3 separate regions of the Homo sapiens genome follow, and regions 2 and 3 are each linked to region 1. Evidence: fine-mapped expression QTL. A gene starts in region 1. Each other region holds a variant in brackets. All regions are shown on one strand. Distances are from middle to middle.

The links. PIP is the estimated chance that this variant, and not a neighbour inherited with it, causes the effect. A credible set is the group of variants that fine-mapping cannot tell apart.
Region 2: its variant is the best candidate, but not a certain one, in a credible set for the expression of ZNF175 in thyroid (GTEx, PIP 0.61).
Region 3: its variant is the best candidate, but not a certain one, in a credible set for the expression of ZNF175 in whole blood (TOPMed, PIP 0.88).

The regions. Positions count from the first base shown.
Region 1 is chr19:51,566,569-51,574,748 of GRCh38, forward strand. ZNF175 (zinc finger protein 175) reads left to right here and starts at 4,715. Exons shown (of 5, transcript NM_007147.4): 1 at 4,715-4,907; 2 at 6,582-6,833. The coding sequence starts at 6,762. RefSeq lists an enhancer at 4,377-4,436.
Region 2 is chr19:51,597,638-51,605,817 of GRCh38, forward strand. It overlaps the pseudogene LOC339352. Among named protein-coding and RNA genes, the nearest start is that of LINC01530, 7.3 kb to the left of the region's middle. The variant A/G (reference allele first, on the strand shown) is at 4,323.
Region 3 is chr19:51,543,823-51,552,002 of GRCh38, forward strand. It overlaps the pseudogene SIGLEC28P. Among named protein-coding and RNA genes, the nearest start is that of SIGLEC6, 16 kb to the left of the region's middle. RefSeq lists an enhancer at 2,190-2,239. The variant C/T (reference allele first, on the strand shown) is at 4,705.

The sequences.
Region 1 (8,180 bases):
AACAACTGGATTTCCAAAAAATACATATTCATAATAAATTTTACTGATATAAAGTATTTGTAGCACACTGTTGAGCACTCAATTTGTCGCTGTTCGGGGTGCCACTATGTAACTCTCATGGACCTAGGGTAACTGAACAAAGGGAGGTGAACGTAGGAATAAAAGACAAGAGACAAAAGAGCATGTTTGGAAGAAGGGGTCAGGGGGCACCTTGCCTCTAGTGGACAAGGGCCCTGAACTTTACACAGCCCTCTGTATTTATTAGGCAAAAGAGATAGCGAGAAGTGGGGTGGAAGAAGAGGTCAGCTGCTTGGTCCAGAGTAGGCTTGCAAGACTGCATTCTCTAGATGTCCCAGTAGATAACTTCAAGGAGCTCGGCGCCAGGAAGCAATGGCCCTCAGCAAACCTTCTGGCAGTGGGAGTAATTGTGAGTTTGCCCACATCCTGCATTCATGATAAACAGTTTGCTGTTTGATCATATAGCCTCCAGTGGAATGCTGAGTTGGTCACGTCCCACGGGCCTTCATCTCCCTGCAGCACGTAACTTTTAAATAATAATAAAATGTACTATACTTTTTATTGTAAATTCTACATAATCAACTGATTCTCACAGAATGTTTTCACTGATTTTTCTGAACTTTTGCAACTTGAGCTAACTTATAATGGCAATTGATGAACAGTACACTGTGTAGTTATGAATGTTGGTTGATATTTTCATTTACATTAAGGAGTAAGATAAAACAGAAATAATGAGATGTATGGTGGGATTTTATTCTTCTGTCAATGACAGGAGTAAACTCTTTGTTTAATCAGATAAGTTTTGGAATATCTACACTAGAAGAATATTTCTGAATTTTTGTGCTATTTACAGTGTAATGACTGCAGATATTAACATCTTTTAAGTTGCATTATTAATATTTTATTCATCACTATATCAAGCGTAGACAATCAATAAAATGATAAATCAAGACTTGATGGATAGTATTTGCCAATTTCTGCAGTGTAAACACTTCTATCATGACTGACTTCAAGCTACAAATGTGACTCGTGTAAAAATATAATTTCTGATTATTTCCGTAGAAGATATTTTTAGCAGAAACTGGATCACCTTTTCAAGAGAAAGTAATATGTTTGCAAGACAAAGATGAGTATTTACAAACTGCTTTCAAAAATGGCTGTAACAGGCCATGCACAGTGGCTCACACCTGTAATCCTAGCACTTTGGGAGGCCAAGATGGAAGGATTGCTTGAGGCCAGGAGTTTGAGAAAACGGCTGAAACAGTGTCCATTTCCCCAATCTTGAATGAGAGTAACCATTGCCTCTCTCGTTTCAGGAATTATTAATTTTTCCAGTTTTGTTAATTGGCAGTTTGGATAGTCATTCTAGACACAAGAATAAAGGAGATCACACTCCTGATTAAAACCTGTCAGTGACCTTCATTCCTCCAGCCAAAGCCCTCAGCCATTTTCCCACATAAACCCTAAGCAGACTAAGAATCTCATTTTCATAGGCTTGGCCAAAGTTTGTCTTCAGGCCACATGCAATTTCCAAGGGCTCCTCTTCCTTTACTTCTGTGGAAGGTGCAATATCAGAATATGAATGAATCAGAATGATGTTCTTAGAATCTTAATATTGGATCCATTTGAACAGATCAGTAATTGAACTTTGGGAAAACTTCAGCACACTTCCTTAGCATACAATTTCTTGTGATGCGAATCACAACTGTTAATTTGTATTTTGCTTTTGAATCCTATATCTCAGAGTGATGAAGTCTCTTTTTACCAGAGGTCTTAGAATAGGTTTGCTTAAAATGAGATATATGAAAGAAAAGGGTCATTTTAGTCAGTGGGCGAGCATTTATCCTTAGCTATAAATGAAGGTGATAAACAGTTTCATTTCTGTATATAGAATGGTCTGTTCAATACTATATTTTTTGGGTAAAGTTTCTTTTAATGCTCTTGGTTGTTTACTTTCTTTGATTTCCAGGAAAAAAAAAACAGGCACAATTGCTATCAGATATTTTGAGGGCAGGCATCTTGTTGAGATCATTATTTAATAAGGCGTTGAGTCATGAAGGCAGTAGACTGGTTTGAAGTTGGCCAGGATGAGAGTTCTTGGCATAGTTTAAAGCAAAGCATTTGAAATTCTGAAGTCCTCATAAGTTGCAAACAGTTGTCTTTATTTTTTGAAGCACTTTAATTTTGAAGCACTTTTATTTAAGTTTCAAGAACCAGAATTGTTTTTCTTTTTCTTTTTTGACTTTCATCTGCACAAGACTTTTTGTCTTTATTTTTTGAAGGCTTTTAATTTTGAAGCTCTTTATTTAAGTTTCAAGAGCCAGAATTCTCTTTCTTTTTATTTTTCTTTTTTGACTTTCATCTACACAAGATATATGAAGATTCATAGTCAGAAAGTTTTGTCTGTCTTCTTGAGGAATAGCCAACTCCAATCTTAAAAAACTCTTCTAGAATGTCATAATCAAATTTTTAAACTTCTAAAGATTAGAATAGATGAAATAAAAAAGCAACCACAGACTGGAAGAAAAATGTTTGTGATATGTATATCTCTAAAAGACTTATTTTTAGAATATATAAAAAATTTTCACAACACAATAATTTTAAAACACAATGAAAAATGGGTGGAAGATTTGAAGAGTTGCTTCAGCAAAGAGGATAAATGAGTGGCCATTCGGCACTTGAAAAAATGCTTGATCTGGGAAATGCAAATTAAAATTACTATGAGATACCACTATGAGATACTCACTAAAACATATTAAATTAAAAAGACTAACAATACTAAGTATTGATAAGGCAGTGGAGCAACTAGAATTACCATGCATATGATAAAAGATAACTATTAAAACACCAACTCTCACCCTAAATAAGGAAAATTCAGGAGCATTCTCATTTGAATCAGAAACAAGACAAGGATGCCCACTGTCACCACTGTTACTTGACATTATTAAAGAGGTTATAGCCAACAAGGTAAAACCAGAAAAATAAGCAAGAAATGTAAAAATTAGAAACTGAGAAATATTTCCAGTATTTGCAGATGATGTTCAAGTTCCCATAGATTTTAATATCATAATCTAATAATAGAGATAAGTCCCATAACTTTTGCCATATTCTGTTGGTAAGAAGCAAATCTCAGGTTCCGTTTGCACTCAAAGGGATGGATTTGTACAAGGTGTGACTCAGTAGGTGTCACCTTAGGGTATGCCTGCCCCACTAAGAGTATGAGGGCGCAGTTACCCCTCATCCTACAGATATACAGATGTCCCAGTGGAGGGACGCCTTAACTTGCCCTGAACATACACATGCGGGGCTGTTGTACTTAAAGCCTCCTACTTCTATCTCAATTTTCACTCTCTGCATTTTCCTTTTTTTAAATAAAATGTACCAAAGCCGTAGGGTAAATCCTATGACACAGTAAAGAATAGTCTCAGATTTATAAGTGGAGAAAATTCAAAAGTTCTAAGTCCGGGGAATTTCTTAGTAACTCAAACAAAATGTCACACTTTCTCACATAATAAAGATAAGTGTTTTTATTGATTTTACACTATTTGCTTACAGTAAATATATAATTGATGTTTTAAAATAAAAGCAGGTTTCATGCTTCATGTAACAAAGTTAGGTTCAGATACTAATGTGAAAACTCAACTATTCCTGGGAAACCATGTTCAAAAAAATGCTTCATTGGCTAAGCAGTCTTATTTTATTATTCAAATGGACTAAAAATGAGGTATGAAGTAATTAAAAGTAATATGGTGGCTTTAAGTGCAGAGATGGGGTGGCAGAAGCTGTGAACACAGAATGTAAAATCGGTAACTACAAAATGGCACAAACTACGAAAGCAATATATTTAAATTACTATTTTTTAAAAAAGAAGGATCATTTCAGATCTTCACCTTCAGATCCTCACTCAGCCCTGCCTCCTATTTCCCATAATCAGCCATTTTTTTAATTTTATGATTGCTATTACTCACCTTCTAGAATATATTTTTGTTTATTTGATTGAACAACCTCTTCCTGAAAATTCTGCCCAGTTGGGCTGGCTGACATTGATCTCAGTAATTGTGTTTTTTTCCTTTAACTTGATTATATTTTTTTCATTCGCCTCTCTTTAAATGAAGTGTCCCAAGAGCCCTAAATTCTCTCTTCAGGTGGTCGCTTGGTAGGTTACTTCATCAATAGGTTCATCCAGGTATAGAGAGCAATGGTGTAAGGATAACAAAGATACAATTTCTCAGAAAGATAACATTTTCAAAAGTGCTATTAAAGACAGTGAGTTGTTCAGCAATTCAGGAAAAAAAAGTCTTTAAATCAGAGGGAAAAATATAGAGAAAAAGTATTTTTCAGAATACATGTCAGTTTCTCCTAGAAATATATATACACAAGTATTGAATAGGTCCCCTGCCAATGTAGGACCCAAGACTTTTACTCTGTGACATTCCATTTGTCCTTGGCTGTACGGAATAAAAGCCCTTTGACGATGGCGGCCTCCAATATCATAATCCGTATGGGTGCGGCCATGCCGTCCTCCCTACCAAGTTTCTGAAGTTGAATGAACCGCGGAATAAAGGTACGCCGTTATACGCCATGATAACTGTTGGCGGAGCGTAGCTTCAAAAGTGTTAGTGGGCATGCGCGCGGTTCAACAGCGCCTACGGAAATCCTAACGGGAATGTAACCCAAACCGGAAGTGGCCTAGAGCGACCATTTAGCTTCTGTTGTTAAGTGGATCTAAGCCTATGTCGCTTACTGGACGCTGAAGTGATTGGGAATATTAGCAGTGGGGGTTCTGTAGGGTCAGGAAGGGGCGGCTGGCTTTGGGGGAGTGATGAGGGGCTTGTTGGGGGTGGGGGTGCGTGATAAAGGGATTTCTCGGCTGAAGACGAGGCTGTGAGGTGAGTGACGGGCTTGTTTTGGCTGAGCGATGAGGGGTTTCTGGGGTGGGTGATGGGTGCTGTGGGGTAAGTGGCGTTTGCTAATTTTAGTTGGATAATTAGCCTGTTAATTTTCCCTCTTTTCTTGCTTATTTTCTGCTTGTAGTATTTTTGTGACTTAAATTCCAAGTGTACTTTAATATCGGATTTTATATTGGTCCACGAAACTTGCTAACTTGAGGACAGTGAACGTGCATCTTAAGAGCGCCTTTGCGGATGGTGCTGGAGGACGTTCAGGGAAGGGATTCACTGTCCGTGGGACTAGGGGAGTCAGTGATTGATTGGCAGCCAAGAGCTTCAGAGGTTGGAGGACTTTGAGGATCACACTGTAACACTCTCAGGGGACCAGTGATGGGCAACCTATAGGAATCAGTAGAGTGGGGTTGCCAGGGGTAGCCTATGGCAGCCAGTTGACTGGAGGCGTAGGGGGTCAATGATGGGGATTTGTGAGGGTGAATGCATTGCTTTCTAGGCAGTGAGTGTTGGGGTCCTTCAGGGATTGGTGGGTGGGTCAGTGTTGGCCTCTTCTTGGGTCCCTTGGACATGGTAAGGATCAGTAATTGACAGTTGAGCACATCGATGATGGTTTCCTATTGGGGCATTTCATTTGGACCCCTATGTTGGGGATTATTTGTCGTTTTATGGAAACCAGAAAATTGTGCTCGCTGGGAAACATTTCTTGGCTATCAGGGCAGTAAAGATTTCAGAAGCCTGTGCCATGTCAGTGACTGGGAGGCATTTTGGAACTTTCTGGCAGCCCTGTAGTACACTCATTGGGGATTTCTGAAAGTCAGTCCTGTCAGTGATTGCATTCAGGTGCGGTGGGGGCAACTTATTGTGGACAGGCAAGAAATGGTAACTGGAGGCCCTGATGCATGTCTGCAAATTTTCTGTGTCAAGATGGGGATTGGGACAGTGATTTTAAGTTTTAGCTCTAGTCAGAAGAGGCTGGTCTGTGTGTGGTGTATTATGGACGGGGACTGAAAAGTCCAGAAGCTCAGAATAGGTACACCAGACAGAGCCACCTCCCGGCCTGAGTTCTATGAAGGCAACAGAAAGAGGAAATGGTGTTTCTGGAAGCTGGCCACGTATGGGTACATGAGATAGTGGAGACAGTGTACAGTTTAGAACAAGGCAGATGTGGGGCTGATTCCCTGTTTTTCCATTTACAGACTGAGTAACCTTCAGGCAAATTATGTAACAGCACACAGCCTCATTATCCTCATCCTCAAAATGGGTATGATAATGCCCATGATATTTAGCTGACAATTAAATTGACAACTTTCTTTTTTTAATTCATATTTATCACGTGCCAGGCAGGCACTGAGGACTTGACAAGCTTCATCTTGGTTAAGTTTCCCAACATCTGTGATAAATACCTGCATTTTCATTTTGGAAACTACAACTAAAGTAATATTTTCATATTCTCACAGTGAAAATGTGGCAAAGCTGCAATGAATTCACCATTTAGTCCAGACTCAGTCTTTATTTTTAACCCTGACTAATAACTAGAGTTGGGCTTTCTGAACTTTGTCTACTCCAATGTCTGACACAGTGACTTCACCTCAGTGCCCTCAGGAAATATTTGTGGAGTGAATGTTGAATGAGTGACCATGTACTCATTGCTTTTCCAAGGCTTCTGCAGAACCCCCAGGTCAGGCCACATCATTGAGGCTGCAGGATCTCTCTTCATAGCCCAGTACGACTCTCCGCCGTGTCCCTGGTTGGAAAATCCAAACACCTATCCAGCTTCTGGCTCCTGGGAAAAGTGGAGTTGTCAGCAAGAGAGACCGAGAGTAGAAGCCCAGAGTGGAGATGCCTGCTGATGTGAATTTATCCCAGAAGCCTCAGGTCCTGGGTCCAGAGAAGCAGGATGGATCTTGCGAGGTAAACAGGGGCAGCCCTGGGGATAGTTCTCCAGAACGTGAGGGCAGACACAGGATGCAGCAGGTCTGGGCTCCCTGCTCCTGAGTCAGTCTTGAGCCTCCTGTCAAGCGAGGACCACAGAGGCTGATGTTTCCACATTCATAGGCTATCTGTGTTCTAGAGGAAACCATGAACTGGCTGATAAAAGAGGATAGTAGAGGGTTGGCCTTGGGTCAAGAAAGAAGAAACTGTAGTCCCTGGTCTGATCAGAAGCCCCAGTCATAGGATGGAAAAGCTGACTCTTTCCTGCTAAGCACTGGTTCTGCTCCTTCATCCACCACTGGGTCTTTGAAAAATTTCAAGTGGTCCCCCCCACCAAATTCCTTGCTTGGTCCATGGGGTTTGGCCCGTTTTTCCTCTGTTCTCATAAGGTGCGGCAAAATCTCCTTCCTTTGTAATTTAAATAGTCACAGGGAGGTAGAGTGAGAAGAGGCTTTTAAGGACCATGTGAAGAGGCTTTTAAACACTTTTTCCTGTTTAAAAAGGTGAACAAAAAATGCTGGAAAACAGTGTTTCCAGATTGCCCACAGATAGAAATAGTCAGGATTTGGTAACAAGAAATCAGAATTCTTGGTATAGTCAAGATTTCCTGAAATCCTAAATTATTCTGTGTATCTCTTGATGCTTTATTTACAAGTCTTTAAATAGTATGTGACTATAATAGTAAACAGTGTACCATTGTTCTGTGATGGGTTTATAACCAAATTTACAGAGATGTTCTGTTTTTTAAAAAAAGTATAATAAATATGTGTGTTATTATCCTGAACCAATATATTGTGAGATTATATATTTCAGTAACCTGTTAAAATCATCTCAACCTGCTAGAAACATTTGATAATAGAAAGTATTAAAAGAAGGGAACATTAACACAAAATAAATTGCACATATAAATCATTTTCAAAATTGTAAATACCCCAAATATTTAAAAGTCGTTCTTAAAAGAAAAATTGAAACATACAAGTTTAGGTGGGGCACAGTGGCTCATGCACTTTGGGAGGCCGAGGCGGGCGGATCACTTGAGCCCAGGAGTTGGAGACCAGCCTGGGCAACATGGCGAGACTCTACAAAAATACAAAAATTAGCCAGGTGTGGTGGCATGCACCTGTAGTCCCAGCTACTGAGTACGTTGACGTGGGAGGATCACCTGAGCTTGAGGCGGTCAAGGTTGCAGTGAGCTGCAATCATGACACTACACTCCAGCCTGGGCAATAGAGTGAGACCCTGTCTCAAAACAAAACAAGTTTAAAACATGAAATTGTCTAAGTCTTTGTGACAGCAGTGCAGATGCACAAACGTTTCTCTCATTTG
Region 2 (8,180 bases), 31 kb after region 1:
TGGAGGTGGTGGTGGCTTGAGGAGGGGGACTAAGCCTGGGGAGTTTTTATGGGTTCACCAGACAAGTGGGACGAAGGAGGTTCGATGGGACAGTTAGAGTCTTGGCTGGGTGGGGAGGGATGAGGTAGGAAAGAGAACAGTTGGGGGCCAAGGATGAGCCAACCCCATCACTGACCCCTCCCCTCCCAACCTCTCTGTGTCTTTCGGGGGCCACAGAAGCTTAGGTGGATTCTGATACCAGAGCGGGGTTAAGTTCAGAACTGGAGGCCTACACACCCTCACCTCAAAAATAGGTGCAACCCCTGCTAGTCTCCCTAGAGGTTGATCTAGCCTGCCTGTGTATGTCCTTGTAAGACACAATCAGGACCCATTCCTGGAGACAGAATGCCCACCCCGACCCCTGAAAGTGAAATCCAATTGGTCTTTTCTGTATAGCCCCCTTCCCTTGAACAGAGCATGACCTCCCTCTGTCCTTAAGAGTCTCTGACCCCTCCCCTCCCAATCTCTCTGAATAGTCAGTAATATCTACCTTCTGATCAGGGCTGTAACATGGGTGGCCTCCTGGAAGTTGTTACAACTGGTCCTTAATAGACGCCCTCACCCCTTTGGACAGGACACGATCTAATTCTGGGTATAACCTGCTTGTTGCTCCCTCTTTTTCCCCCTGAAATCAGCTTAAGTTCCTTCTCTTCTTGGTGCATAATGGGTGCAGTCCAGGAAGCCTTCCTGGAGGCAGTGGCCTTCTTACACCAGAACCCATTTATAACCCACGTATATAAGAGCAGCAGCCACAGCTGCCCCTGGTCTATTCCAGGCAGGGGCACTATCTAGGGAACTCCTCAAAGGCAATGAAACATGTGTAACCCGCCTCCTCTCCCGGTCTAGGAGAAGCTGTCCCTTCTTGCAATGCCCGCCCCGTCATGTGCCTCCTGCCACGTGGCATGCGCCTCCCTCCGCCGTCCATGCTCGGGCCAAGTGCTGTGCGGTTCCTGCTTCTGCACCGCCTTCGAGGCGGAGGTGCAGCACATGGTGCTTGTGGGCTACCTGCTGCCGCCAGGCGCAGTGGTGGCCCTGGGCACCTCGGGCGGCAAGGATTCCACGGTGCTGGCACACGTGCTGCGCACGCTGGCACCGGGCCTGGGCATCTTACTGCAGCTCATGGCTGTAGACAAGGGCATCGGGCGTGGCTTAGCGGGAGGATCCCAGTAAGGAGCTGGGGAAATACGCATGTGCCTATTTAGGGCCGGAGCCTACTGAAGGCTCATGTGGGTAGTACGTGTGGCTCCCTACGATGGAGTAAGGCAGGTTTTTCAAGCCTCTGGGTCTCTGACATCATCTTAGTGAGAGATGAAGCTGGCTGGGCTTCTGGGTCAGGTGGGCACTTGGAGAACTTTTCCGTCCAGCTAAAAGATTGTAAACACACCAATCAGTGCTCTGTGTCTAGCTAAAGGTTTGTAAACGCACCAATCAGCACTCTATAAAACCAGACCAATCAGCACTCTGTAAAACCAGACCAATAAGCACTCTGTAAAATGGACCAATCAGCGCTCTGTAAAATGAACCAATCAGTGCTCTGTAAAATGGACCAATCAGCAGAATGTGGGTGGGGCCAAATAAGGGAATAAAAGCTAGCCACCGAGCCTGCAGCGGCAACTCATTTGGGTCCCCTCCCACGCTGTGGGAGATTTGTGCTTTTGCTCTTCACAATAAATCTTGCTGCAGCTCGCTCTTTGGGTCCGCACTACCTTTATGAGCTGTAACACTGCGAAGGTCTGCGGTTTCACTCCTGAAGTCAGCGAGACCAAGAACCCAGGGGAAGGAACCAATTCTGGACACATTGGTACACACATTGGCAGGTAGAGGGGCTACCTTGTAGGAGCTAAGGCTGGAATACTCTGCTATCATTATTATTATTATTATTATTATTTTGAGATGGAGTCTCACTATGTCACCTAGGATGGAGCGCAGTGGTGCAGTCTAGGCTCACTGCAACCTCCGTGTGCCAGGTTAAAACGATTCTCCTACCTCAGTCTCCTGAGTAGCTGGGCTTACAGGTGCCTGCCACCACACCTGGGTAATTTTTCTATTTTTAGTAGAGGGAAATGACTTTGTATCTCCCTTCACAAAGAGAGATGTGAAGAGGTGTCTCTCATCGAAAGTCACACAGTCTGAAATGCTACTGTGTCTCTTAACTCCTTTTCTTTATAGGTTTCTCTCTGACAACTCTTATTTTCTCTCAATGATTACTTCAATAAGTAATCATCGTCCATTGACTAAATACCAGATACAAGCTGTGTAGCCTAGAGCAAATTACTTAACCTCCGTTTCATCTTTTGTAAAATGGGGATGTTAATAATATCTGGGTCCTTGAGTTGGGAATTAGATGAGTTATATATAAAGCACTCAGACTAGAGGCTGAAAAACAGTAAACATGATGTAAATGTTTGCTGTTATGATGATCCACAAGAGCACAAGACAGTCTCTGCTCCTGCCTGATTCTCACGAATGTAATTATAACCTGACGAGTGCTACTACGGAAAATTACACAGAATGTGTGAATTTATATCAGGGGGTACTAGTGGCGGGGAAAAGGTGGGGATTAAGGAAACGTTTCCTGAGTGAACTGAGACCCGAAGGCTCAGTGAATAACCAGGTGAAGGATGAGTTGGAGTTTGGGCGGGGGGTGTTCTGAGCTGAGGTCACAGAGAGGCAAAGGCCTTGAGGAGGGGAAATATGACCAACTTGAGAAGCCCGAAGAAGAACAGCATTTTAATATACAGACTCAAGTATAAGATGACAAAATGCAGAATAAACGTAGTTTCCATTTAAATTGTATGGCGACTGGTGTGTATGTATTCATTAACTTTCTTTCTGGTCTTTGTAAATCGCGTGATCTGCATTCCCAGAGACACTTGTGTCTACAGCTCTCTTGAGAATCCCCATTAGATGGCCCTTTTTTCTCCTGTGTAGTCTGAAATACAGTTTTAACTGAGGCTGAAATGGTGTTTGCAGCTTAAAGCACTTTTACCCGCTATGTGGAAAGAGAGCTAGCGAAGGGCTTGGTATACAGTAGGTGGATGGCAAATGAGGGCTCCCCCCAAGGAGCTTGTTTGTGTTCCCTTCAGGTTTTCTGTCCACCTCCAGTCTCCTTCTGGTTGCTCCATGGTGCCCGGGAGTCTCCATGGTCCGGTTTCCCCATCAGTATCTGTTCCCCCTCCCCCTGCCCCTCTCTGTCTTGGGTCCTGGCGGCCCCGCTGTGCCCTGGGTCTCCCTTCCCCGTCTCTCTCTGGGTCCTGGTTACCCACAGTGTCCCAGGGGTCTCCATGGCTCTGTCTCCCCCTCTCTGTCTCTGGATCCTGGCTGTTGCACATTGTTCGGAGGTCTCCATGGCTCGCTCTCCCCGTCGCCGTCTCTCTCTCTGGGACCTGGCGGCCCCACTGTGCCCTGGGTCTCCGTGGGTCTCCCCTCCCAGTCTCTCTCTGGGTCCTGGTGGACCCTTGGTTCCTCGAGGGGCTCCCTGGCCAGCAGCGCCCTCCGCGCCGCACCTCACCCTCTCCCGTCTCTCCCCACCAGGTCACAACGCCGACGACATGGTGGACACCGTGCTCATGAACTTCCTGCGGGGCGGCTGGCCCGGGGCGGGGGCCTGGGCTCTCCGGGCTAGGGGGGTGCCCTTCCGCGCTGCCGCCCGCTGCAGTTCGCCTCGCAGGAGGTGGTGCCGTACGGGCACTTCCGCCGCCTCGACTACTTCTCAGAAGAGAGGAGCGCCCGGGACCTGCTCAAGCGCCTGGAGGCGCCGCGGCCGTCGGCGGTGCTGGACCTGGTGCACTCGGCCGAACGCCTGGCGCTGGCCTCGGCCGCGCGGCCCCCGCGCCCCGGCGCCTGCCCCCGCTGTGGGGCGCTGGCCAGCCGCGCGCTCTGCCAGGCCTGCTCCCTCCTGGACGGCCTGAACCGCGGTCGGCCCCGCCTGGCCATCGGCAAGGGCCGCCGGGGGCTGGACGAGGAGGCGACGCCGGGGACGCCCGGGGATCCGGCCCGGGCCCCCACTTCCGAGACCGTCCCCACCTTCTAGCGACTCCGGGCCTCCCGCCGGGATCCGACGCGCCCGGGTGAGGTCTGCCTGTAAATGACACTGTGAATAAACCCGTTACCTTACCTGGCCTTCCATGTGAGGTGGGAGGGGGATGGGGGCCCAGTGACCTGAAACCCTGAAGCTGGGACCCCAGACTTCGGGGTCTCAGGGAGGAAGGGTCTCGAGCTGGCCTTCTGGCTCTGAGGGAGGAGGGGGCTGGGGGGCCATCCTAGGTCTGAGAGAGGAGAGG[A/G]CCAGGACTAGGGCTAGAGGAAGTGGGGCTGGGGACCCCAGGCATCTGTGGCTGAGGAAGGAGGGCCTGGGGTCGTGGACTCCTGGATCTCAGGGAGGAGGGGGCTGAACACCTTGTGATTCCTGAGCGAGTGGGGGTTGGTTGGGGACCTCCTGCCCAGTTCTCTGCTGGTTCTGGGTGCGCTCAGCATGGTCCTGACCCTCCTTGAGCACCAGATTCCTGATGTTTCCTGTTTGCCCGCAGTGGGGTAAGCGGAGTGACGTGACTTGATGGACACACGCCATTCACAGCCCCCGTCACGATGCCTCCCTTCCAGCGCTTCGTGTGCAGCGCGTGCTGCACCCTCATTTCGTCTCCTCCACGGCCTCACTGGCAGTAGCCTGAGCCGCAGTAACTGACCTGGGGGCTCCCACCAGGTTGGCCTGGCTCCAGAGCTGTCAGAGATTTTGGGATTGCCTTTCCCCCATGCTATCCTGTCCTCATCCATCACCACCTGAATCTCCCTTGCCGTCTCTTGTCATAGGTAAGGAGGGGCTGGTGGGCTTTGCAGACCTCTCAAGCTCTGAAGGCAGAGCTGCGCGAGCCTGAATCGCCGCTTAACTCTTCTGACCTTCTATTTCCTCCTCTGAAAATAGAAGCAACCCTCCCTCTCCACTCCCCCGACATCAGGGTACTCTTGGGAGGATTCAGTAACTTGGTTGTTCATATTAAGGTTTGGCCACCAGGGAGCTTTTAGTTTCAGGATTGCTGCTCAGCTGGTCCTGAAAGGAGTGAGGCCCAGAAACTTCCTGCCTAACCTGTGGGAGATTTGGTGTTCTCAGTCCCACCTCCGAGCTTTGCTGGCTTGCCTCCCTAGTCAGGAATGCCTTCCCTTTCCCATCTGCCTGCTCAAACCCTCCAGGGTCCTTACAGAAAGAGGACCTTCCTGATTCTCCCCTCCCACCCAGTCCAGGGCGTAGGGATCTCCCAAACCCCACCCCATAGGTCCCCCACCCATAGGTCCTGTCCTGACTCTGTGGCCTTCCCACCGTTTTGGGTTATGCTCTCCCTAATTAGACTGATCATTAAGGGCAAAGACCAGACCTCTCTCCCCATCGGACAATAACAGCATTATTCATCCAAGAAACACTTATTGAGCACCTAATGTGTGCAGGGGCTGTTCTAGGCACTGGTGAGAGAAAAAAGACAGAGTCTTTCATGGAACTTAGGGCCTTGTGGGAAAGACACCTATATAATGTCAGATAATTAGTGCTGTAGATAAGAAATAACATAAAGGGAAAAGGTGTAAAGAGCTGTTATTTTAGTTTGAAAGGCCAGGGCCTCTTTGAGAAGGTGACTTTGGGGCAGAGATCAAACAAAGCAAGCGAGGTTTCTAGCCATGATAGAGAAGCTAATGTCAGAACAACACTTCCACACTAAGACTGAGACCAAATGGAAAAACAGTACACACATACACACACAAAAACAATCTGATGACATTGGAGAGCTACCAAGTTGGCCAGGATCGCAGAGAAAAGGGAAGCTCATTCTCCTGGAGGGGCCAAAAGGCTAAGGAAGCAAGCAGAAAGCAGAGGATAAGAAGATGGGAACCTGAGTTGAGCTTTCAGCAGTGTTATGGCTGGGGCTGGAGACAGAAATCATGGTGGCCAGGTGCAGTGGCTCATGCCTATAATCCCAGCACTTTGGGGTGCCAACGTGAGAGGATCTCTTGAGCTCAGGAGTTTGAGGCCAGCCTGGGCAACATACAGAGACCCTGTCTCTACAAAAAAAAAAATTAATAAAATTAAATAAATACAAATAGATCATGGAGCCTGGTGCTACCAAGGTAGACAGGACTTGAGGGACCAAAACCCTGGAAGGAAGGGAAGATCACTGAGGTGAGCCCAACATGTTTAAACTCTCCTCTCAGCAGTCTGATGGAACTGGGTAAGCCAAATTTGATGTTCCGGGTCTGATAAGGAGAGGCCCAGTAAACACCCCAAACCTTCCATTAGAACTCAAGAAGGGTTACAGATTAAAAGTAAGGGTCGGCCGGGCGCAGTGGCTCACACCTGTAATCCCAGCACTTTGGGAGGCCAAGGTGGGCGGATCACGCGGTCAGGAGATCGAGACCATCCTGGCTAACACGGTGAAACCCTGTCTCTACTAAAAATACAAAAAATTAGCCGGGCGTGGTGGCGGGCGCCTGTAGTCCTAGCTACTCAGGAGGCTGAGGCAGGAGAATGGCGTGAACTCAGGAGGTGGAGCTTGCAGTGAGCTGAGATCGCGCCACTGCACTCCAGCCTGGGAAACAGAGTGAGACTCCGTCCCCCCCGCCAAAAAATATGGGTCAACTGGGAGTAGACCTGCCCACAAAAAGACCAAAACCCATCTTCAAACTCACTCAGCCTGGGGCTGGCTTAAGGGATCTGTCCCTATTCCACTTGCCAGAAAGCAAAAATAGGGTAGCCCTAGCCACATGAGCCGATTTATCTTTAAATTAATTAAAATAAAATTAAGGATTAAGTCCTCAGTCACCCTAAACACCTTTCAAGTGCTCCTTACCACCATATTGAACAATGCAGACACAATGCCTCCATCGTCATGAAAGTTCCATCGCACAGTGCTGTTCTAGACTGTACTAGAATCCAGAGGAGGAAAATTTCAGTCAGAGCTCAAAAAAATCTCTGCAGTTTTTCAAACAAAATACTAGAAATTCAACTAAAAATTAAAAAGTTGACAAGCATGCCAGGAGATATGACAAAATTGTTGAATACCAAGAGGCTGGGCATCAAGCACAGATGTATTTACAGGTGTTCTAGATATGAGTTTTAGGTATGGACTTTAATTGTCATCACGTAAAAACAGATGCTAAAATGGAGAGTTTCACCATTGTATTGGATTACATTTTTAAAAGAACCATTAAAATTGTGAATGTGATTAATAATAATAACCAGGCAGAATGGAGTAACTAGTACCAGACTTACCCTCCTGCTGTAAACAACTATAAAATAGCATAATGTATTAGGCAGTTTTCCCTGCTTTGCTCCACATGCAGGCCATCTTCCCAATTGCCAGCCCTGGGGATGACCAACACCAGCCTCAAATCTACCACCACCTGCTTGGCTGTGTGCTTACAGAGGTAGTAGCTACGCAGGCAACAGTTTTCCATAGAACTTTCTGAGATCCCCCTTTGGGGGTCCCATGGTAACAATGGGCATACTTGGCTTTTCATATATCCCTGCACGCTCTGTCTTGCCTACCCACACCTGTTCTTCAATGGAACTGCTTAATGATGCTCTCATGATCATCCTGCCTTCTCCAAAGCATCACTTTCCAGCTCTACCACATTTGCATTAAGTTCTAGGTCCTCTAGTGAGCGCTCTATTCTCATAAAACTCTTGGCTGCTGTTTCCCTGGCCACACTCTTGTCTGGTGGAGTGATGAAAACCTATGGAGATAATTTTAAGCTCTGGGTCACATTATCCTTCTTCAGGGCATATTTACTGTTGCTTGTGGCAAGCCGACCACTTCAATTTGATCAGATATTGAGGAAATTTGGTCTGGCTTTAATCCTTATGAGGTATCATCTAGTTCCAACTCATCCTTACTCTACAAGGTCCCAACCACAGCACTACAGTGTTTACCATGGCCCTTTTTCCTTGGCAAGCCCTCAGCCATAACTTTTATCATTCTATCCCCATGAGATTCAAATGTTCTACTTAGCTTTTCAGTCTATGCTTGGAATCAGCAACCTGTTTCATCCAAAGGATTGGGTTGTGGAAGACATGAAGGACCCTGAGCTGAAAGCAGAGGACCCAGCTCGGGGCTGATCCACAGGCCACTCCTGGTACCATACCCTCCTCTGTTCCCCAGGTC
Region 3 (8,180 bases), 23 kb before region 1:
CGCGTGTAACCTTGTTCACCTTCATGGGTTCTCCATGGCCATATTTTTTCAAAATTAGAAAGAACATATGACCCAACTATTTTGCATTTAAGAACTGATTTCACAGGCATAGATGTACACTTGTGGCAGTAGATACAAGATTATTTATTGCAGTGTTACTGTTGGTAAGATAAAATTAGTGCCATGATATTCCATTAGGCACAAAATCAGAGTCCACATTTTTGATGCCACGAAATTGGAGTCCATCCACACAGTGGAATCACCCACAGTACTGGAGGAGAGTAATGTCACTCTGATGTCACTACTGATGTTAAACCATCACTGAGATCCTTCGGGCAAGCAAATCAAGGCGCAGCGCAGCCAGGACAGACACTGGCGGATTCTGGGGAAGGGGACGGGTGTCTGAGGGTAGATTCTACTGTGCACTCTGAATTCTCACCCATGTGACTATATCATCTGTTCAGAAGAACTTAGATCAGGACTACTGGGGAGAATAAGAAGATGAGGGAAGAGGAGTATTCAGCAGGTGGGGACTCAAAGCCTGGATCTGCTATGTGAATGGCACCCTGCCCTTGTTATGGGGCCAGTGGGAGTTGTGTGTGGAAGAGGCCAAGGGGAGTGAGGGGAGGATGGGGACAGGTGCTCAGGTGGCCTTGGAGACTAACGATGGGGAAGACCTCTGTTTCACTTACAAGAGGGTCTCAGGTTACGAAGTTGAGTCCAGGAAGAAGCAGTAGCCCAGCCCTGCCCCAAGCTGCAGGCCCTGCTCCCTCAGCCCCAGGGAGGGGGCTCTGTCCTACCTGTGCCGTCTCCTAGAGAGACACCAATCCTTGGGTTCCTTAGAGCATCTAGAACAGGAAGAGAGAATTTCCCTTTCTTTGGGGTGGAGATGAGGTAAAAGTAGGTACTCCTCCCCTACCCCAGAAGCCACAGGAATGTCAAAAGACAGAGCTTGTGTCCTTCTAGTTCCCCTGCTCAGCCAGGCCTCCAGGACATAGCCACAAAGTGTCCCCTGCCCTGACCCTCCTCTACCCCCTACACCCTCAGGAACCCAGGCATCCTGGCCCCAGCACTCACAGGAGACACTGAGCTGGATGGTTCTCTCTGTAGTCACACCAGCTCCAGGGAACTTCACCTGCCAGGTGAGGTTGGTGCTGTGGTCCTGGGGCCATGGGGTGATCGTGAGCACTGAGGAGCCGAAGGTCCTGGAGCCCAGATGCAACAGGGAGACCCCCATTCAGAAGAATGTGGAGGGGGCTCCTCCCATTCACAGGCCCAGAACACATAGCAGGTAAGGTTCCTGGTGTGACTGGTACCCCAGAATCCCTGGGATGAAAATGTTGGGCTTGTGGGTCAGGGCTGGTGAGGAGAGAGAGGAGCTTGGGGACCCTCTGAGTGTTATCAGCCCACCCCAGGGTCCTTTCACGCTGTCGGCATGCCACCACCTCTAGAAGGAGCAGAACCTTCATTGCTTTATTTCTGGTGTCTGGGCTTTTAACATACTTGTCATATTCCAAGAGAGCATCCTACAAGATATGAATGTTTCCTGAATGGTTTCTCCTTTCTGAAGAGTCCGTGTGGGCTGGGCGCAGTGGCTTATCCCTGCAATCCCAGCACTTTGGGAGGCCGAGGCGGGCAGATCATGAGGTCAAGAGATTGAGACTATCCTGGCCAACATGGTGAAACCCTGTCGCTACTAAAAATACAAAAATTAGCAGGGCATGGTGACGGGTGCCTATAATCCCAGCTGCTTGGGAGGCTGAGGCAGGAGAATCTCTTGAACCCGGGAGACGGAGGTTGCAGTGAGCCAAGATTGTGCAACTGCACTCCAGCCTGGTGATAAAGTGAGACTCCATCCCAAAAAAAAAAAAAAAAAAAGAAAAGAAAAGAAAAAAAGAGTCCCCGTGTGTGCCTCTGATGCTCAGGGAGAAGTTGCTGGTCTTGAGGTCCCTGGGCAGGAGGAATTGGTCCTGGGTCCTGCCATGAAGCATTTGTCCTGGTCACTGGAGGATTGTGGTCTACATCCACCCCTTTCTGGAACCAGCACAGGTGGAGGGTTCCATAGTAAGTCCAGGAGTAGGGAAATTTCTGCAGCCTGAGGACACACAGGCCCTTCTGCACCATCACAGGTTCCTGGAACTGCAGCTGTTCCAGAACCTAAGCCAGGAGCCCTGGAGTGAGGAAAAGACTAAGCCTTGGGCTCTGGAGCCTCCTGAGTGGGGGCTGCTGTCCCCGCAGCCTATGCAGGGTCAGCAGCAGTGGCATCTCTGCCTCATACCCAGGGGCAGACCTCTCTGAAAGGGAAGGGAAAGCTACAGGTGTGGGACAGCAGAGGAAGCTTGTGGTGAGAACAAGAGGTGACCAGCCCAGTAAAGGGAACTTCAGACACACAATGAGTCCATTGTAATTAACTCTTTAAGAAAACTGAGTTCCATTTCTGCATGTTGCTCAGACAAGGCAAGAGGCTTGCCCTAAGTAAGGCAGCAACGAAGGACCGGAGTCCCCAAGTCCTGCCTCCTGGACTTGTGCACAAGTGACTGGAGAAACAGGTGCCACCTGGCCAGTTCCCCATGAATCACAGGCGTGGGACCCCCACAGAGGTCAGTCTCCTAGAGATCAGCACCAGAGGCATGAAAGGGTCCACGTGAGGTAAGAGCAGCAACACTTCATTCATTCCATGTGTGCATTCATTCTCAAACAAAAGTAAAAGAGACAGATTTGCATCATTCCTGACGCTCAACTAACTCAAGTAGTCCTGGAAGACAGAAACAATGATGGGCTTGAGCTTTCTCCAAGGACAATAGGGAGTCATGGAAGGTTCTCATGCAGAAAAGGGTCACCATAATATATACATGTCAGATAGATCCCTCCAAGGCCAGACTGCAGGCTAAGGGCCTAGAGAGAAAGCTGTTGCGATTGTTCGGTAAGGAAGAACCATGCCTTCAAGGAGAGAGTAATGTAGTGAATTCTTAGAATTGCATGCGACCTCAGTGTCCTTTTGAAATACCAGAAGCGGGGCTCAGTCATCCTTAACAACTTCCAGTTCTAAACCACACTCAAATGGCTCAAGCTGGTGGCCAGAGATAAGAACTTAGACAGGCACAGTGACTCATGCCCTTCAACCAACCCCAGCACTTTGGGAGGCTGAGCGGGTCGATCTCTTGAGTGGAGTTCAAGACAGCCTGGGTAATATAGAGGGACCTCATCTCTACAAAAAACAATAGGTAAATAAAAGAACCAGCGGCATCTCTCCTGTAAAAGCAGACTTGCCTTCCTGCTTTTTCTGCTGCTACCTTTAAGGGAACCACAGATATTTACCCATGAACTTAAAGTAACCACACCCGATTCCCTGAGAGGTACTGCCAGTTGCCGTGTGCTTTTCTTTCTCACTCTGCCTGACTCCTCATTCCTGACTCGGGTGACCCAGGGATGGACTGGGTCCCCCCACTAATTACTGCCCCCCCTCCACTCATTACACCCTCATTGCCTGGAGTTTATAAGTAAAAATCTTTAAACATATTTCCTAGCTTGATGGTGCATTGAACTTGCACCCTCCACCTGAAGAACTGTGGCTACTCTAGGCTGGGTTTCCCCCCAGGACACCTGGGAGGGTACAAGGGTGGACTTCCAGTGCCAGGGAAATGGTCAGGCAGGCATAAAGTGAACACGGGTCAGAAAAGAACCACAGGGGCATCTGTAGCTTAAACAAGTTGCCCATGTGAGGCACCCATGGTCATGGGTCAGACAACCAGGCATTAGATCATCCTCCACGTAAGAGAAAGATCCTGTGAAATGTACGCTGTAGACACCACGTCCAGCTCTCCTTCATTTCCCATTAGGGCAGGGTCATCAGCCACTCTGGCACTGAAGCCCCAGTTTAGCTGGGGACTCTCAAAACAAGTCACCTTGGTGATTGAAGAAAGAAGCAATTTGAGACATTTTCAGAAAGTGGACTTTGCAGGGTTGGTGGTGGTGCATGACAGAGCAGGAGCACCATCATCTCAGACTAACACTGCCACTTTAAGTTCCAGCTCCCTTTCTAGCCTCGTGCATTTCAAGGAAATCACTTATCTTCTGACAACAAGCAGCCGGAAAGAGCAGACAGTGAAACACAGATAAGACAGCTCAGGCATAAAGGGATGTCTGAGGGGGAAAAGTCTCCTGGGTAACCACCAAACTTCACACTCATACAATGGGCCCCAGTAAAACAGTGGGCCCTAATAAACACATTCCTTCCCCTTTAGGTACACTAAGATAGGGAAGCTAAAAGCAGACTCAGGGGGTATGCCTGCAGCTGCAGGAAGACGTATGGGATTAGACACAAAACTCTCCCTCCCAGGTAAGCAAGACAAAGAGACACAGAAACATTCTGAGCCTGTGATAAGCTGTACCGCCCTGAATCCTTAAAAACTCTTAGTCGGTAAAAGAGAGTGCCTCTGACCTAACTCAGCCAGAAGCCCTTCTCAGGTTTAGTCTCCAAAATAAACCTATCTTTAACTGTTCAGCTGTTTTTTGTGTTTCCTTCTTCTTTCTTTAATTCTTATAATGCGTGAGAGAGGGGAGCATCTGCAGTGGCTCCCAGAGCCCCGACTCAAGCAGCAGGGACTTGGGGGTGTCATGGCAGAGAGCTGGTGAGATGAACCGTCAGGGCTTGGGGGCAGGTCTGGGCTGGAGAGGGAGGGGTAGGGAGTTTCACAAAGCCTA[C/T]TGGGGTTGTACTCAGGGGAGGTGGATGTGTTCACCAAGGGGAAACAGAAGGCCCCAGTGGGAGGGGTGGGGAACACACAATCTTAAGCTTAATTGTGGGCTGGGGAATGGCTGAGATGGCCTGGCCAGGGAGGTAGGAGGAGAAGGAGCTGCACATTGGTGACAGCAGTGGTGAGAATTTTATCAGGGATGGGTGGGAGGGGCAGACTGCAGGGGGCAGCGGGGTGAGGGGGAGTGGGACTCATTGGGATGTCTTCAGTCCTCTCCTGTCGGAGCTCTGGGCCTCCACTTCTGTCCTGAGCAAGCAGCAAGCCCACCTTCATCACGACCCCAGAGGGAAGGTTTTTTTCCTACCTGTACCATTTCCTTGGGTGGGGCCAATAGCCAGATTCTGTGGAGAATCTGGCATCTGGCATCTGGAATGGAGAAAGCCACCATTTTCTACCACCATGCGGAGGAGTATGGCTGCTCTGCCTCTTTGGCTAAATCCATGGAAAGCTGCTGAGGTGGGGACTGCTGTGATTTCTCCTCCCTTCTCCAGTCGAGCTCCTGACCAGGCGTTGAATCTCTCAGGCCCTGAACCCTTCCTGTCCATCCTGGCAGCCCTCAGCCACCCAGGTGTCCTGGCCAACATCCAAGGGGGATGCTGAGCCTGGTGGTATGAGGAGCTCAGCTGGGCTGTGAGAGAGAGCTGTGCTTCAAGGTGGCAGGATCACCGATTAAAGCAACAATAGACCAAACTGAAAGAATGAATCAAGCCTTTAATCACAGACAGCAGTGATAGAGGCAAGAGTCTAAACCAGAGAATGCACCAACTCTTCTTGTTTCATTTCCTGCCACCCCTCTGGAACAGTGCACACTGCTGGAGGGTCAGGTGGCTCATGGATCAACACAGACATAGGGGTCGGGGTCCTCTCACTGAGGAGGGAGCCCTGAACAAAAGGCTCAGGCAGTTCCACAGACCCTGGGAAGGGTGGGGGCATGAGAAGGGCTAGGAGTGGAAAAGAACTGAGTACTGAGTCAGAGTGGGGAAACGTGTCTTCAAGGTTCCTCCTCCTGCCCCCCGCAAGGTGGTCTCAGCAGAGGCATCTGTGGAAGACCTCTGTCCAAGGCCTCAGAAAACGAGGCCTAGAAATAAATGTAACTGGGATAGAAATGCAAATATGCATAGCGCATGACTGGCCAGAAAGGTGGGGTCCTTGACCACAACCGAGTGTGAAGAGGGTGGAGTCTCCCAGTGAGGCCTGCCAGGAAAAGCCTTTGCAACTGCCTGTGATCGAACCTGAAAAGCCACACCTAGGTTTTTAACCATGTGCTGGACTCCTCAGATAGTTCTACCCATGGATCTACCGCTTCCTAGGAAGGTCACCTGGCATGGAGGCCTGATGCCACAATCTTGGACCCTAGGATACAGGGGTACACTGAGGACTTGAAGCGGGGGCTTCAGAACCCCAGGAAGAGAGGTGCATCTTCCTTCACAAGCCCCTGGCATGGTGCTGTTTAGACTCCAAGATGGCTGGCTTTAAGCTTAAAGGGATATAAATTATGGGTATCTGATACAAGCTACAGAGGAGGAGAAACTCAGAGGGGAGACCCCAGAGTGTCAGCCTGGGGTTGGCCTCCCCTGCCCTCAGCCCCAGGATCCTGCACCTCTCCCTTACTCTCCAGATAAGAAACAGGTATGTTCCTGCCTCTGGGGCTCTCTCCTGGGGACCCTTCTCTACTGGTCACAGTCAGAGGCAGTGTCATTCATTGGGAGCTATATTTCATGTGATATCTCTGACCTAGAGATGTGTTCCTACTTTCCTGCATCTGGAACATCTGATGCTCTGAGAGCAACTGTGGGTCCTTGGGTCTCTGAGGAGGTTAGCTTTGCCCCAGGTCCTCTCTTCCAGGTTTTTCTTTTCTTTTCTTTTCTTTCTTTCTTTTTTTTTTTTTTTTTTTTTTTTTTGAGATGGAGTCTCGCTCTGTCACCCAGGCTGGGGTGCAGTGGCACAATCTCGGCTCACTGCAACTTCCACCTCCCAGGTTCAAGCGATTCTCCTGCCTTGGCCTCCCTAGTAGCTGGGATTACAGGCACCTGCCTCTACACCTGGCTAATTTTTGTATTTTTAGTAGAGATGGAGTTTCACCATGTTGGCCAGGCTGGTCTAGAACTGCTGACCTCAGGTGATCCACCCACCTCGGCCTCCCAAAGTGCTAGGATTACAGGCATGAGCCACTGCGCCCAGCCTTCTTCCAAGTTTTGACAGGGCTTATTTGTGGCCACAGGGGGATTATGGTGTCTGTGGGCCCCCTCTGGGATCCAAAGGTGGGTGTGGACTGGATTAAAGTCAGTCCAGAAAACCCATGGATTGGACTGGAGAATGAAGCTGGGCACAGAATGCAAAGGTTCCCTCTTCACCGTCACTGACTGAAAGGTGAGAGCACAGCCGGCTGATTCTCATGGGACTGCTGCCGGGAAGCAAGCTGTGGCTGCAGCCCGACTGAGCAACCTCTTCCTCAGGCCTCTGCTGCCCTCACAGCTGGGGCAATGGCAGCAGCGGAAAAGGATGTTCTACATTCCGCTGACACCATCTGATTTGTTGGGAGCCGAAAAGGCCAAAGAGATCGTGACCAACTCAGCATTCCACTGGAGGCTATATGATCAAACAGCAAACTGTTTATCATGAATACAGGATGTGAGCAAACTCACGACTGCACCTGCCGCCAGAAGGTTTGCTGAGGGCGGTCACTCCCTGGCGCCGGCTCCTTGAAGTTATCTTCTGGGACATCTAGGGCCTACTGTTCAAGGAATACAGTCTTGCAAGCCTACTCTAGATGGAGCAGCTGACCTCTTCTTCCACCCCTCCTTCTCGCTATCTCTTTTGCCTAATAAATATGGAGGGCTGTGTAAAGTTCAGGGCCCTTGTCCACTAGAGGCAAGGTGCCCCCTGACCCCTTCTTCCAAACACATTCTTTTGTTCTCTTGTCTTTGTTCCCGCGTTCGTCCCCCTTTGTTCAGTCCCCCAAGGTCCGTGCAGTTTACAAGCGGTGCCCCGAACAGTGACAGGATTGGGCAGTCTACAAGTAGCACCCCAAACAGTGAGAGAACTAGGCTGTCTTCACTGATTAGCCTCTCCCACTTGGAAGTGGGCACAACCTTGGAGTGATAGATTCTCTTCCTGGATTGAATGTATTGTTCCTCTCCCAAATTTCTGCCTTCAGCAAACGCTACTTTTGCCCTCAGACCACTACAGGGGAAATGAAAGCTGAGCTCTCCTCTCCCCTGACCACAGCAGGGTGGGACCTTCCTTCCTCCTCTTCCTCACCACCTGAAGACCAACCCCCACTTCCCTCAAGAGAGATGTGGAGTTTCTGGGTCTGTTTTCCCCAGTTGCTTTTCTTGGAGCCCCTTGCATAGGGTCATAGGAGAGTGAGACTGAGACTCTCCTAAAATGGAACCCTCTCTGTCCTCAGCTCCAGCCGTGGCTCCA